Linked DNA regions of Homo sapiens. The protein of the gene in region 1 purifies or fractionates together with the protein of each later gene. This does not show direct contact. Each region holds a gene or a part of one and is shown on either strand. Other genes may lie near its edges.

Evidence for each region. The genes of interacting proteins can lie anywhere in the genome.
Region 2: the proteins of SYT1 (region 1) and TRIM44 purify together in Homo sapiens (co-immunoprecipitation; one large-scale study listed by IntAct). This does not show direct contact.
Region 3: the proteins of SYT1 (region 1) and CWC22 purify together in Homo sapiens (co-immunoprecipitation; 3 studies listed by BioGRID and IntAct, with this or other methods). This does not show direct contact.
Region 4: the proteins of SYT1 (region 1) and INPP5J purify together in Homo sapiens (co-immunoprecipitation; one large-scale study listed by IntAct). This does not show direct contact.

What each region holds. Positions count from the first base shown.
Region 1 is NC_000012.12:79,294,707-79,298,308, forward strand, and holds part of SYT1 (synaptotagmin-1), read left to right. Parts: intron 1-1,362; coding exon 1,363-1,530; intron 1,531-3,602. UniProt on the Homo sapiens protein: Calcium sensor that participates in triggering neurotransmitter release at the synapse. May have a regulatory role in the membrane interactions during trafficking of synaptic vesicles at the active zone of the synapse.
Region 2 is NC_000011.10:35,812,754-35,815,721, reverse strand, and holds part of TRIM44 (tripartite motif-containing protein 44), read right to left. Parts: 3' UTR 1-2,968. UniProt on the Homo sapiens protein: May play a role in the process of differentiation and maturation of neuronal cells. May regulate the activity of TRIM17. Is a negative regulator of PAX6 expression.
Region 3 is NC_000002.12:179,997,217-180,000,818, reverse strand, and holds part of CWC22 (pre-mRNA-splicing factor CWC22 homolog), read left to right. Parts: intron 1-912; exon of another isoform or gene 913-1,088; intron 1,089-3,602. UniProt on the Homo sapiens protein: Required for pre-mRNA splicing as component of the spliceosome. As a component of the minor spliceosome, involved in the splicing of U12-type introns in pre-mRNAs. Promotes exon-junction complex (EJC) assembly.
Region 4 is NC_000022.11:31,121,764-31,125,846, forward strand, and holds the start of INPP5J (phosphatidylinositol 4,5-bisphosphate 5-phosphatase A), read left to right. Parts: upstream 1-1,202; 5' UTR 1,203-1,251; coding exon 1,252-1,356; intron 1,357-2,132; exon of another isoform or gene 2,133-2,242; intron 2,243-2,378; exon of another isoform or gene 2,379-2,500; intron 2,501-3,081; coding exon 3,082-4,083. UniProt on the Homo sapiens protein: Inositol 5-phosphatase, which converts inositol 1,4,5-trisphosphate to inositol 1,4-bisphosphate.

The sequences.
Region 1 (3,602 bases):
TTCGCATTACTACATAAAGGTAAATACCAAATACCTACTTAGCAAACAAAGAGACAGACTGTTTCCTTTACTAATCATGTCTTTATAATCCGATGCCTATTTTAGCTGTTTTTTGACCATCTGTCTGTGTTTTGTTTACCTACAATCTAGCACTCTTATTGCCACTGTTGTATCATGATTCCACAAAAAAAAAAAAAGATATTGAAGCATTAAAATAGAAACAACATAATCATTCAGGTTATTGGGCCATGTTAAAAGTTGAGCCACCTAGCCAAAATGCACTTAAGTACACGGTGGGTCACAATTAAAATGGTTATGCATTTTTTTTAAGAGGGGGAATTGCTTTTTTACTCTACTAGCTAAAAAGGCATGAACTCAGATTTTTCAGGCTGAGATGTAAAAACCTATGGTGTTACTGCATTTACAAAATAGCATATACCTTGAATAACAGTAAGAGTCTGCTTTGTTACCTATATGGATCTAAATCAGTCTGTTGACACAAAATCTCTAATGGCAGAGTATCTATGATAGTCTACTCACACCTCTTTTTTTCTTCGCAAAAATATTAACCATACCATAATACCTTAATATTCATAATGAGGCTTAAGAATGCATCAGTAAGAAAACAGACTTAAAGAAATGTAATAGTTCTGTGGTGTTTGGAAAAAATAAAAAACACAGTTACTCACCATTAAAAAACCTCACCTCTAATCTCCCTTGCTTTCTATGAAGCTGAAATTACATTTCTTTTACTCCGTGTCCTATATTTAAACACAGAATCTCATAGATAATAATCATTCTACTGTAAGTTAAAATAAATGTAGTCTGCACACCAGTGAAGGTCAAATATAATAGAAACTAGAAGATCTTATTTTTTATCTCAAAATGCTACCCAATTTCTAAGAAATTTCTACTCAGCTAGCCTGAGGCTTTGATAAAGAATAAAAGTTTCCCACTTTGTAATTACAAACTTGTGATTGCTTAACAATGCATTTTCACTTACAAATCATGCTCTGGAAAGAAAAACAATGCACAAGAGCTTTTAGCAACTGGAAAGTTATTTGATTACAACTCTTTTGCAAAAATGAACTCCATATTTAACTGCAATCAGCAACCTTTTAAAAGCCTCTTTTGTGCTTAAAACCAGGCTTCCCAGAGCCTGCATCAGTCATAATTGGGTTTCTGAAGTCTACATAGCTCAGTTCATTTGCCTTCTGTGTTCAGATTCATAAGAGAATCAGAGTTTTATTAAAAATAAATAGGAAGAGGGAGAAATCCCAATATGCAGCATTGTGAACAAATCGATCTTTTCCAAAATGTCCACTGATATTTATGTATGCTGTATTCTGTCATTTATTTCAGCTGCTGGTAGGGATCATTCAGGCTGCCGAACTGCCCGCCTTGGACATGGGGGGCACATCTGATCCTTACGTGAAAGTGTTTCTGCTACCTGATAAGAAGAAGAAATTTGAGACAAAAGTCCACCGAAAAACCCTTAATCCTGTCTTCAATGAGCAATTTACTTTCAAGGTATTTGTTAACATTTATTTATAACCTTTCCTTTGTTGTTTTACTTAAAAGACTGATCTCATCCTGACACATACATAGACATGCACATGAATGCTTGTTCAGGCACTCACAATAATTCCAGTCAGAATATGCAAAATTCTTATCTTCACTACAGTCAACATTCGATATTGCCTTTCAGCGTGTTCAGAGTAGGATTCGGTTCAGTCATTTCAGAATGGAATGGACTAGAACATGACTAGGATGTCATAGTCACATCTAAAAAGTGAGATCCCTCCCTGAAATAAAGCCAAAGGAATGAAATCATTATTTTTCTGAATTTCAAAGTTTGTGAAAATAAGTACATCTGTTACAATCCCAGGATTAAGTAAGCTGTGTCCCAATGCTTAAATGGTACAAATAGACATGACTCTTGTAACAAAATTGTGTGTGTAGAGGGCAATTTGAGCACTTCAAAGTCATTCTTCTTAACTAATCAATAAAAGGAATATGAACATATTTTTTATTGCATTTCTAGCCTTCTTCCTTTACTCTAGGTTCTGCCCTGATGTTCTTCATCTTGTTGAGGCACCTCAGTTGACAAACAACAGAGAGATTCCAGCCATATAATATCTCATCAGGAAAACATGTCCTGCAGGTCTCCAGGATCTTCGTGGATCTTGGCTTGAAATCATTCATTAAAAACAATTCTTTTGGTGGATATCTTTAACGTGCGAAAAAAACTTTTTAATGCATTACTTAGAACAATATGTTTCTGAAAAATGAAATATCTGTGAATATGCCAGCAGGCTAATTCAAAATCACCACGTCCATCAGCCAGGCTTAGCATATGCCTTGTGTTGGCAAACATTCTGGGATGAAATAAATTGAAAATGAGGGCATGAGTCATTTTCTCAAACCTTGTTTTCAATTATGTAAAGGGGAAGTGTCTTTCTATTCACTCTAAAATTTCTGAGTTTTCAAGACAAAGGTCCCTCATGTATTGTCAGTAATCTTATTTAAAATCTGGTTTTTCTGTACCTAAGCAGTGAATTTAAAGTAGCAGTAAAGACATTCTGGAAATACTCAGTTCATGAAGAGTATCTGCTCATGAAGCTTAATCACTATAGTCAACATACTACGAAACGTAAAATGGAAATAAAATTTTAAAAATATTGTAATAGTAATCACAGTTGTTTTATTCATCTATTTATTAACCTTAACTTAGGTCAGCAGTTTCTGACCAAAACTTAGTAAGGAAATTCTTAAATTATATGAGCTAATGTATTGGGGCTTTGTTTTGTATTGCATTACCTACATTATTATTTCTTTAAAAAATGCTAATAATTTTATTAGTAATTTCTATAAAACCAAGTATAATTATTGAAATTTTTGAATTCTCTATACATTTTTATCAAGTTTCATTTTATTTCAGAAAGGTTGATCAAACTATACATAAATCCAAAGTATAATATATTCTGCTATATTAAAAAATACTTCAATTTTTCTAGAGAACTGGTTAGACATTGTAGATTACTCATCTTGAAATGCCAAGAGGCAATATGATACAGGAATGGAAGTATAAAAGACTTTAAAGAAGCCTGGCTTTACAATGGATTTAAATCACTTAACAGGAACTCAACATGCCCCAAATTAATTCATCTTCTTTTCCCCCAAAACAGTTATCTGAAGGAGCTACTAATCATTCAAACAATAAATATTTTTAAGTGCTTCTTCTGTGCTAGGTGTTTTACATATATTCATTCATCCCTAAAATAGCCCCATGAAGCAGCCATTATTACAGTATTATCACAATTTAATAGATGAATAAACTTATGTTTAATCACGTGCCCCAGGCCCTTTAGTTGGAAAGTCCAAATCTGGTACAAGGTCTGTCTGACCCCAAGTCCAGGTTTTTGACTGTTGCTCTTTGAGTACAATCACTAGAAAGTCTAGAGAGATTTTAGATATACAATAACATTTTCAAGGGTTTATCCTTACTCTAAAAAATTTTGTTTCTTTCTTTGAGAGTCAGCTCTTTGGAAGGGTTTATTTTCCATTCCTTCTAAAATGGAAAAAGGATGATGCTTACTTTT
Region 2 (2,968 bases), on another chromosome or scaffold:
CGTCTTGTCCTCATAATAGAGGTAAGAGAAAGAGATTAACAGGAAAGCTTGTTTTGAGTACATAACAGTCAAGTATAATTTGGCCACAAGTGGGCTAGGTATACTCTCAGAGGAATGCCTTTATTTGATCAGACAGGTCAGAATCTTCCAGGGAAAATATTAATTTGGGGAAAATAGATCAGAACCTACTTGTTATCAAATGGGAAATTGGCTTGAGTGTTGAGAAATACCCATTTTTATTGTTATCAGTGGTTTGTCATCCTCCCCACCTGAAACTACCCTACTGACACTCCCTATTGCCCTACTATCACCAAGTCAAAGAGCAATCTTGTTCCTCTATCATAGTTCTTCCTACTTAGAAGCTGAATTTCATACTAGGATACAGCCATCCAACTGGGTCTAAAAGGTCTCATAATGTGTGGAGAGAAACCAAATATAGAAAAGTTACTTCCAATTAACACCTCTAATCTCCAGATGTCCTAATAAAAACAGTGAGGCAACAAATGGCCACCCTCAAGCCAGAGAACCATACTTGGACTCAAATGTTTTTAAGAGCCAGGGAAAGTAGCTAACCTCCTCTTAATTTGATCTCCTGGCCTGGGACATATAAATGTTTAACTACACTCTGGCTTAGGGAGGAAAGCAAGCAGAGGTGAATGTATCCTGTAGTGGCATGGCTTCAACAGAGCATTTGTCTCACCCTGAAATATGAAGGAGCAATGCCTGCCTCCTCAAGCTGAGCAGTGCCCAGAATTTATGAACTTCAAGTATGATGTGAATCTGGGGTCCGAGCCAGGCATTATCATTGGGAAGTGGTGGACAATTTCCCTCTCCCTCCCTCCTCGTTTTCCTACTGCTGATTGTACTGTTCAGAAGTGAATCATGATTTAATCCCCTCTGCTGTTAAGAGTATTACAAAATGCTGGTTACAATGAAGTCACAAAAGTATTTACATAAAAGAAAAAAGACGGACAGAGAATGTTATAGCAAGTGACAAAACTCATCATTACCACCAGCAAAAAGATAGGTATGGAAAAATCCTTGCCTGGGTACCAAATGGGATGCAGCTGATTTAGACCATCTCTATATATAATCAGCGTGGCACATGTTTTTACAGTCATGCAGTGTTGAAAGCAGTGCATCATGGGAGAAAAGATAGTTCTAGTCACATGCATCTGGGTTTTTAAATCTTAGCGTCATCAGATCAGGGCCAGGTTACCCCAGAGTGCTCAATAATCCATGAGAAATGAATCCTATCTTCGTTCCAGGGCTTAGTATTGGCATTACACCATTATTAGATGCAAGCAATTCTTTGATTGATGGCTCCAACATGGATTAAGGTCAAAAGTGGCCCTGGAGACCAAATTCCCTAGTGAGGAACTGCCACATAACTTCATGTGTCTTTTGCTTCTGAATTATTTCTTCTAGAAACCACCAACCACAAGCTGTCACGCTGGTATTATATCTACATAACGTTTATTCTTCTTACAGCAAAGAGCTGGAGAAATACAAGTGAGAACCTGTTATTACAGGTTAAATTGTGTAACACTCAACTTGCGCTGAGGTCCAGTTTCTTTTTATTATGCTCCAATTTTGTTGAATGACTATTGCCTAAAATAAATGGGCAATCGACAGGGGCTTAGAACTAACAGGGATGCTTAAGTGACTTTTATGGTAGCAGTATTTGTTGTAACAGAATTTGATCTGTATTCTAGTTATTAGTTTTATTCATCACATTGGAAAGTTGGCACCTCCACTGTTCATGCCATTATATGCAAAGCACTGTAGCATGAAAGTCACTTACAAAGCTGTGAAAAAAACTCTCTGAACACCAGAGGCTCATGAAACAATAAAAGTCAGCTAGGGGGATATACACTGTTTGATTTAGCTAAATATTCTGGATGGTCAAAGGTTTATTCCTTTTAATTCCTAAAAGTTTTTTTTTTTAACCATTGGGATGTAAATATTTCTAAAATGTTTGATATACATATTTTTGTCTTCTAAGCATAGTTTTTTTATGTATGGTGCACAGGGTCATCATTTTAAATAGAATATTGTCCCATGATACAGTGAGGCTCTTAAAGATTGAGATGTGTATAGACTGTTTTTGACACTAAATAACCCATATATCAGGGCTTTGGAGCTTTGCAGTCTACTCAAAATTTCCATTTTCTCTATTGCTGTCCTCCTTTTTCCTTCTTGTTTCCTCTAAAAGTCTGTTTCTTTCCTTTACAGTTAGAAATATGTGTGAAGGAAGAGCAAATAGGTTCTGAGGAGGTGCCTGATGACTAGATGTATGGCCTTTGTCTTATGCGTTTGCTTCATGGTATTTATTTCAATTGGTTGGAAGCCTTGTTTGCTTACTTCTTAATTCTCAGTCACTTTTGATGGGTTCAGCAGAGGTTCTAGATTTTTCTAGTTCTGTCTCAGTTACTCATTGTCAAACCACTGGTTTAGATTTTGTGTTCAGGAAATAGGGATAGGTAAAGCTATCAGGTGGCTAAGCCCTAGGTAAATGAGTTGCCATGAATCCTAAAATATTGTGAAGGTTGTGGGCCATTTTTATAAGGCAAATGGTATGCTGTGGCCGTGACAGCTGAACTCAGTAAGTGAACTTTAAAACAGATAAGCTCCTTTTGCTGTTGTCCCTTTCCAAGAATATGAAGCTGGCCTGACGTCAAGCTGTTGGAGAGCCTTCAACATGTTTAATTAAATCACAGACTCAGTGTCAGAGCTGGCTGACTTTCAGGATTCTAACGCTATAGCAAAAGAAGACATGGTTTTGCCTCTCGTTGATTTTCTTATTTATGGCCTTGGAATAAAGAAGATAAAGCAAGTCTAACAGTTCTCCCTTCCAAAAGTACAGTTTCAGGCCAGAAGATTTGACTGCTACCCTTAGACTTTCTTTCCCTCACTGTACATTGCATTTTACAGGCTATACAAAGCAAGACCTTCTTTGCAAAAGGCA
Region 3 (3,602 bases), on another chromosome or scaffold:
CTCCTCTGTGTCTTACTGTCTTAAAGTGTCTGAAAATTTGGGCTGTCTACTCTCCACACAGAGTTGCAGACCAGTCAAATGCTTTTATATTACTTACTTCTTACAGAAAACAATGTCCAGAACTGTCTGCACAACTTCTAGCCCTGTACTTGAACCTGGCAATCTAGTCATTCAAATGGTTATGAGTCAGCACACCTGGCATATGCAATGACTATGAAGCAAAAGGGAGGACAGCTCTGCAACTCTTTATTTGTAATTTTTGGAGCCAGAAGTGTTTTGATTTCAGTATCTTGTAGATTTTAGAAAACTGCAGTGCCTATACTACATATTAAGTAATCCCCCCTTTTGGGGTCTGGAGTAACATCCTCTAGTCAAAACACATTAATATTTCTGCACTGTATCAAGTCACATTAAGTATCAAGTCAGTATATGCTAAGTTTTGCTCTCAAGTGAGTTGCCACATGCTTAAGAATAATCTTTGTATTTTCAGAGCTTTACAGATTTTAGAACTGCAGATAAAGGATTTTCAACCTGTACCTGGTGACTTTTCTAGAAAGAGACAGGAGTATTTTGACCCTTTTATTTTCTTGAAATTGTGATTCTATGCTGACATCAAATTATAATTTTTTGGCCTTATGAGGTATATCATGAGGCAATTTTTTCACTAATATGTAAATTAAGACAGGAAAAAATAGCAAGAAACGGTTTTTCTAAAACAAGTAAGTTTTCCTTCAGTACAGATATGGAAAGTACATAGCAATCTTGTTTTATATTGTTCAAGAGCGAAGCCAATCTGTTACTCCTATTTGTTCCCTGAAAAGGAAAATCCGTTCCTTGGGGGCTTGGCTGTTGTTGAGGTATTTTCTGAGAATTCCGTTCCGTTATGTCCCCTCCCATTATATTTTGGCATTTAGAATAATTTTAAGACAGTTTTTATTTTGTATTGTATAATATTACCACTTTCCCCATTGGGCAACTAAGGTTTTTGTTTTGGTTTTTGTTTTTGTTTTAAATATGAACTCTGTTAAAATGTTTGAAATTCACCAAACCTGTTTTTACTATTTAGAAGCCAGAGGAGCCAACTAAAGGTAACTCACTATTGATTCCCCTTTCCTTTAGCAATTTTATGACAATATGTTTCAGCAAGTTCCTCTAACTTGGACTGAGAACACCGAAGTGACAATGGTAGAAGTGTTTTGCTACGGAAATCATCTGGAAAGCAGTGCATTTCAGCCATTAGTTGAATATTTTCTCATTTTCTTAATTTTTGAGATGATTGCAGAATTCACAGTTTTCTGCTTAACAGTCTGACGTACTTATATATGTTATTAAATATTTTGCTTTCTAATGCTTGATGAAACTGAGAGAAAAACTATCTTTTTTTTAATAGTGCTCTCGTGAATACTATATCTCCTATTGGAAAATATCCTTTCTTCGGGAGAACAGGTGTGGTTTTGTTGAGTTGCTTTCTTGTGAGAAGGGGAAAGAAATTTAATAATTCACCATAAAATTCACATAGTGATGCTTAGAAGAGCAGAGAGTGCTATAAACTCTAGATAAATTGCTCTCATTTCAGGAATTTCCGATTAGTGTAAGTATTAGCATGCATATGTTGAACTCAGAATTTCCGAACAGGCATATTCTGCATAAATCTGGACAATGACAATACTTTATTCATTTTTTGTTAGAACTATGATAGCAGTCTACTTTACCATATTGTCATTTTCACACTTACGTTGTGAGACATGGAAATGTAACAGATTGTACTTTATTGCCAGAAATTATTTGCTGATGAAAGTTGAAAGGGGAAAGATGATATCGATCAGAAGAAAACTCACTAAATTGAAATATGTAAATTGAAATATGTAAATTTAAATAGAAATAAAATGCACAGAAATTGCTTGTTCTGAAATGTGTAAGTAGGTTGGGAAGAGGAACCGGGTGTAAGACTCCAGGAGAGTAGCAAAGGAAAACGCTAAATCTTGTGCAATGGGGTCAAGTGATTTTTTATTTTTATTTTTTGCTCATAGTATACCTAGTCACAGTGAATTCTAGGTATGCTAAATTAAATAAAAAGGAATCCTTAAAATTACTATGAATGTTTGAAAAGAAGTAGTGCTTCATTATATTAAATCACAGTCTTTGCTATCTGGAACTTTGAACGAATGGATCAGTTTAGGCTAGGATAATTTTCTGTATAGTAGAGTCTGTACTTGTTTACATTTTATAATTTACCATTTTGGCTTCAATTCGTTAGTGTTGGCATTTTCATTGGGACAAAATATATGGCTTTGGCATCAGATAAACCTGGCTTTGAAGTTTAGCTTCTGCCATTTACTAGGTGTAATTTACGTGGACAAATTGCTTGAATTCTCTGTACTTCAGTTGTTTCACTGAAAAACATGGCTAAAAAAAAAATCACCAGAACAGGGTAATTATGAGGATTGAGGAAGATTGTATAAGTGATTATAAATTGTGGCCATAATTTCTCAAGTTTAAAAAACACTTCTTACCTATGAATTATTAAGAATTAATACATTTGGATTTTCTGTTTCCCTTTCCAATTGATTTACAACTAAGTTCTTCACTATAAAGTAGGTAGGCTGTGGGGTCTCTATATTCTGCCTAAGTGGCTCATGGTTTGAGAACAAATTGAGAACCAAAGTTTCTTATGTAAAATTGAAAAGCTGAGGAGACTTGGGGAAAAGTTGGATTTTGGAGTTACCTTGGGAATACTTTCATAAAACAAGTATGCATGGGTTTCCCCTACACTTTCTGCCCATTTTCTGATTTTGTAAGTCAGAGGTGGGCCCCAATATATGTACAAGTAATTCTCCTGTCATGCATTTTTTCTTGATTCAAGTTGTGTTTAATATAGTGACATCAAACTAGTTTTACACTGTTAAGTAGTGATTTAAAACTGACCTGTAGGAAAAAAGTCCAACCTGTCACCTTGCTTGAGTGGCTTAGTGTTTTGTTTATCATTATAGATTTGTTTCTTATACCTAGAATGTAAGCTTCACATGAACAGATTTTGTTACGGTAGTTCATTGCTGCCTATCCAGTGCCTAGAAAGATGCTGGGCAAATAACAGAAGTGCTGTATTATTTGTTGGGGAACAAATGTACGTATAAATAACACTGGGTTTAAAGGTAATAAAGGATATGTTAGAAATGTTAAATGGTTGTGCTAGTAGAGGTAGGGAAAAAAATACCAATATCTTTGAGCAAAAGTAAGTCGAGTAAAGTTTTGAGTTTTATGGCTCTCTATACCTTTATAGCCATTAAAACAGGAGCTTTGGAAGGAGTCATGCAATTTGGTTTCAACAGAGTCATCTTGTTGAGGCAAATGGTCCTAAAATCCAGCTGAGATAAGGGTTATCCCTACAGGGCTCTCATCCTCAGGTGAGGGAGGGGGTAGCCTCTGTTTTAAATATTTTTTAAAATTCTATTTTAATTTGTAGCCTTTTAAGCTACATTTTGTACTTTTTTTTTTTAGTCATTACTCTAAGGAACAGTATATATATATCCTTAACTTTTCATGTGCTACTTAGAGTCCATATTGTATCACCTTACGAAAGATGTAGAAAACCTTGCATAGTG
Region 4 (4,083 bases), on another chromosome or scaffold:
AGAGATGCTGGCCTGAGAATACAGACTAGACCTACTGACAGTCAAGCAGAGGTAGGAAGTGCCTTCAGGAGAGGAAAGTGAGGCATCTGCCTTCATGTAGGAGACTGCACAGGCCCATGCAGATGCTCCATGTTGGTTAACAGGGAGCTCTGCACACACAACTCTGAACACTTTCTGCCTAAAGTGGGTGGGATCACTCCTCTCTAAGCCATGAGAAACAGATCCCACAGCCATCCCAGCCCAATCTGACCCTCATCACCCATTCACTCTTCTAATTCATTTATTCATTCAACAAACACTCCCGTAGGCCTGTTGGGGACCATGTCCTGGGCTGGGTCCTGGCTGTAGCAATTCTCAGGCCTGTTTGTAACTCTCTTGTCAGTCTGTTACCCCACTGCTGGGCCCTTCTCCACCCAAGTTCCCTTCCCCCAGATAGCTCGAAGGGCTTGTGCTCATCCTAGGTCACTAAGTTTTCTCACTGAAACACAGGAGACCTTCTCAGTTCACCAGGTGACCTTGAGCAAGTTCCCCTCCCAAACCACACCCAGTGAATACTGGAGAGAAGAAAGCTGACAGAAGCCGGGCTGGGTTAGGCCTGGCTGTGGGGACATCTGAGGGCAGCTAGGTGTCTGCAGAAGAGGAGGGGCTGGTGCTGAGGCCTGAGATGGGAAAAGACTGCAGTGGCTGGAGCCTGAGTGTCTGGTTCTGGGTTGGGAAGAATAGAGCCTGGGACTGGCAGTAGGAGTGGAGAGGGTGGCACCAAGACCTGAAAATGGGGCAAGGGTGGGGGCCGGGGCAAGCTCTGAGCTGGCAGGGAGCCAGGAAGGTCACAGGATCAGGGCAAGAACTCAGTTGTCTCTGAGGCCCTGGAGAGGGTGCAGACCTCTGAACCACCTGTCCTACCTTAAGGCAGGTGTGTTAATGCCCCTCCCTGGAGCAAAGGGCTGACCAGGCCTACGGCAGAAAGGTGAAGGTAGACAGACAGCCTCCTTCCTGCTGCCAGTTGGGACCTGGGCCAGGCAGATGGGTACACTCTCCCCTCCCCACTCCATGGCTGTTCCAGCCTCAGCAGCCAGTTTGAAGGATTCCCAGGGGGTAGCCACCTTGCTTCGGCCTCTTCCAGGCTGGGAAGTGGGAGCCTGTGCCTTTAAATTCTCAGCAGGTTGAAATGGCTGATGACATCACTGGTTCCCGGGAGCGGTAGAGCTGGAGCCGGAGCCAAGGGAGTCCAGGCTGCCGGGGGCTGCAGACATGGAGGGCCAGAGCAGCAGGGGCAGCAGGAGGCCAGGGACCCGGGCTGGCCTGGGTTCCCTGCCCATGCCCCAGGGTGTTGCCCAAACTGGGGCACCCTCCAAGGTAAGACCCCTGAGACCCAGTGCCCCCCGCTTTCCTGATCCCTGGTTCCACACACCCCCCCCACATACACTGCAGGCTCCCTGGTGCTCCTGACTGAGGGGCTGGTACTTTCCTCTGCTCAGCGAGCAGGGGCTAGGTGAAGAGAGCACCCTGGGGGCTGAGGGGCAGTGACAGGATGCCCGGAGACAGATGAAGTTAGCCATCTCCAGGAGCCCTTGGGAGAGTCCTGGACTGGGTATCAGAGGACCCAGCTGTGCTCCACCTTTGCTGTGTGACCTTGGCCAAGTTGCTTTTCCTCTCTGAGCCAATGCAAAATGAGGGGGCTTGTCGCTGAAGACTAAAACTGTGACATCTGGGATGGCTAAGTTGTTAGTACTGGAGGCGGTGTGATAGTTGGGGGGAAGCCGGCACACAGTGTGACACTTGGAGCCAAGGAGGGTGCCTAAAATGCCACCTCAAAGAACTGAGTTTGAGAAGGGAGGTGGAGATGGAGTTTTAGGTACTCTGAACTGAGAAGGATACGGGACAGAAACAGAAGTGCGTCTCCAGAGGCAGGGCCTCCCTGCGCCCTGTTACCCTACCTAGGGCCATCCTGGGGCAAGTATAGACATTCTTCTGCCCTCCTTGGTGAAGGACACTTTATCCTGTCTTCTGGAGACAGGGGACATCAGAGAGAATAGATGGGGAAGGAGGATAGGTCTCTACAGGACTCCGTGACTCCCCACCCCTCCCACCTGCCGGACATAAATGGGATACCTGCTTGCCTGTCCTTTCAGGTAGGGGAGAAAGTGGAGGATGTAAGAGGGCACAACCTGGGCACAGAGAGATGTGACACCAGGATCAACTTAGAATCCTGGACTTGCTCTGAATGCTAGATTCACACTTGGTGAGGATGGACTATTCAACGGGGCTAGATGGAATTCTAGCAAATGTTGGGCTCATAAATGCAGACAATGGGAGATGAAGATTCCCCAGAATATAATGTGGCCAGGAACCCTAGACCCCATCCCTTCATTTTACAGACAGAGAAACTGAGGCGCTGGGCAGAGAGGTACTTGCCTAAGGTCACACAGAGCTGGGCTTTGAATCTACACAGCCAGTCTCAGCTCCCAGCTCTTGCTCCTGAGTGGAGCTCTGGGAATGGGTAAGAGAACAGAGAGGGCTGTAACCAAGGGATTTGGATGTTTAGGGGGCGGTGGGGAACTGAGGGTTTCTGGGCATTATGAAGGAAGGGAGAGGTATTTAACAAGCTGCACCTGTAGGTCTGTATCTTGACAATAGAAAAAGAAAAGAAACAGGCTGTCCCCAGTGTGCCCAGACCTGGGATGTCAGGTCAGTAGCCGTGGCTGGGGGAGCTTCAGGGACTGCAGTGGGAGGGTTGCCCAGGGAAGCTGCCCCGAATGGGCAGGGTGTGGGTGCCAGCCAGGAAGGCAAGGCAAGTCCTCAGGTTTAGGTTCACACTCTGCCTCATTTGAGTCAGGGTCTGAGTTTCCCCATCTGTGAAAGAGGTTTCAGACTTAAAGGAGGGGTTAGGGTTTTGTGTCCTATCTCCTCCAAGACAGAAGTTGACCTGCAGCAGAATAGATTGAAGTGAGATAGTAGGAAGAACTTCCTTGGAAAGATGTGCCTTTCTTAGCTAGATGAACTCTGCCAGGGTCTATATGGAAGTTGGGGCCCAATGCCCTGGTTAGGGTCACTCTGAATCTTTGACTTGTCCTCCACAAGGTGGACTCAAGTTTTCAGCTCCCAGCAAAGAAGAACGCAGCCCTAGGACCCTCGGAACCAAGGTTGGCTCTGGCACCTGTAGGGCCACGGGCAGCTATGTCAGCTTCCTCGGAAGGACCGAGGCTGGCTCTGGCATCTCCCCGACCAATCCTGGCTCCACTGTGTACCCCTGAAGGGCAGAAAACAGCTACTGCCCACCGCAGCTCCAGCCTGGCCCCAACATCTGTGGGCCAGCTGGTGATGTCTGCCTCAGCTGGACCAAAGCCTCCCCCAGCGACCACAGGCTCAGTTCTGGCTCCGACGTCCCTGGGGCTGGTGATGCCTGCCTCAGCAGGGCCAAGATCTCCCCCAGTCACCCTGGGGCCCAATCTGGCCCCAACCTCCAGAGACCAGAAGCAGGAGCCACCTGCCTCCGTGGGACCCAAGCCAACACTGGCAGCCTCTGGCCTGAGCCTGGCCCTGGCTTCTGAGGAGCAGCCCCCAGAACTCCCCTCCACCCCTTCCCCGGTGCCCAGTCCAGTTCTGTCTCCAACTCAGGAACAGGCCCTGGCTCCAGCATCCACGGCATCAGGCGCAGCCTCTGTGGGACAGACATCAGCTAGAAAGAGGGATGCCCCAGCCCCTAGACCTCTCCCTGCTTCTGAGGGGCATCTCCAGCCTCCAGCTCAGACATCTGGTCCTACAGGCTCCCCACCCTGCATCCAAACCTCCCCAGACCCTCGGCTCTCCCCCTCCTTCCGAGCCCGGCCTGAGGCCCTCCACAGCAGCCCTGAGGATCCTGTTTTGCCACGGCCACCCCAGACCTTGCCCTTGGATGTGGGCCAGGGTCCTTCAGAGCCTGGCACTCACTCCCCTGGACTTCTGTCCCCCACCTTCCGGCCTGGGGCCCCCTCAGGCCAGACTGTGCCCCCACCTCTGCCCAAGCCACCCCGATCACCCAGCCGTTCCCCAAGCCACTCCCCGAATCGCTCTCCCTGTGTTCCCCCAGCCCCTGACATGGCC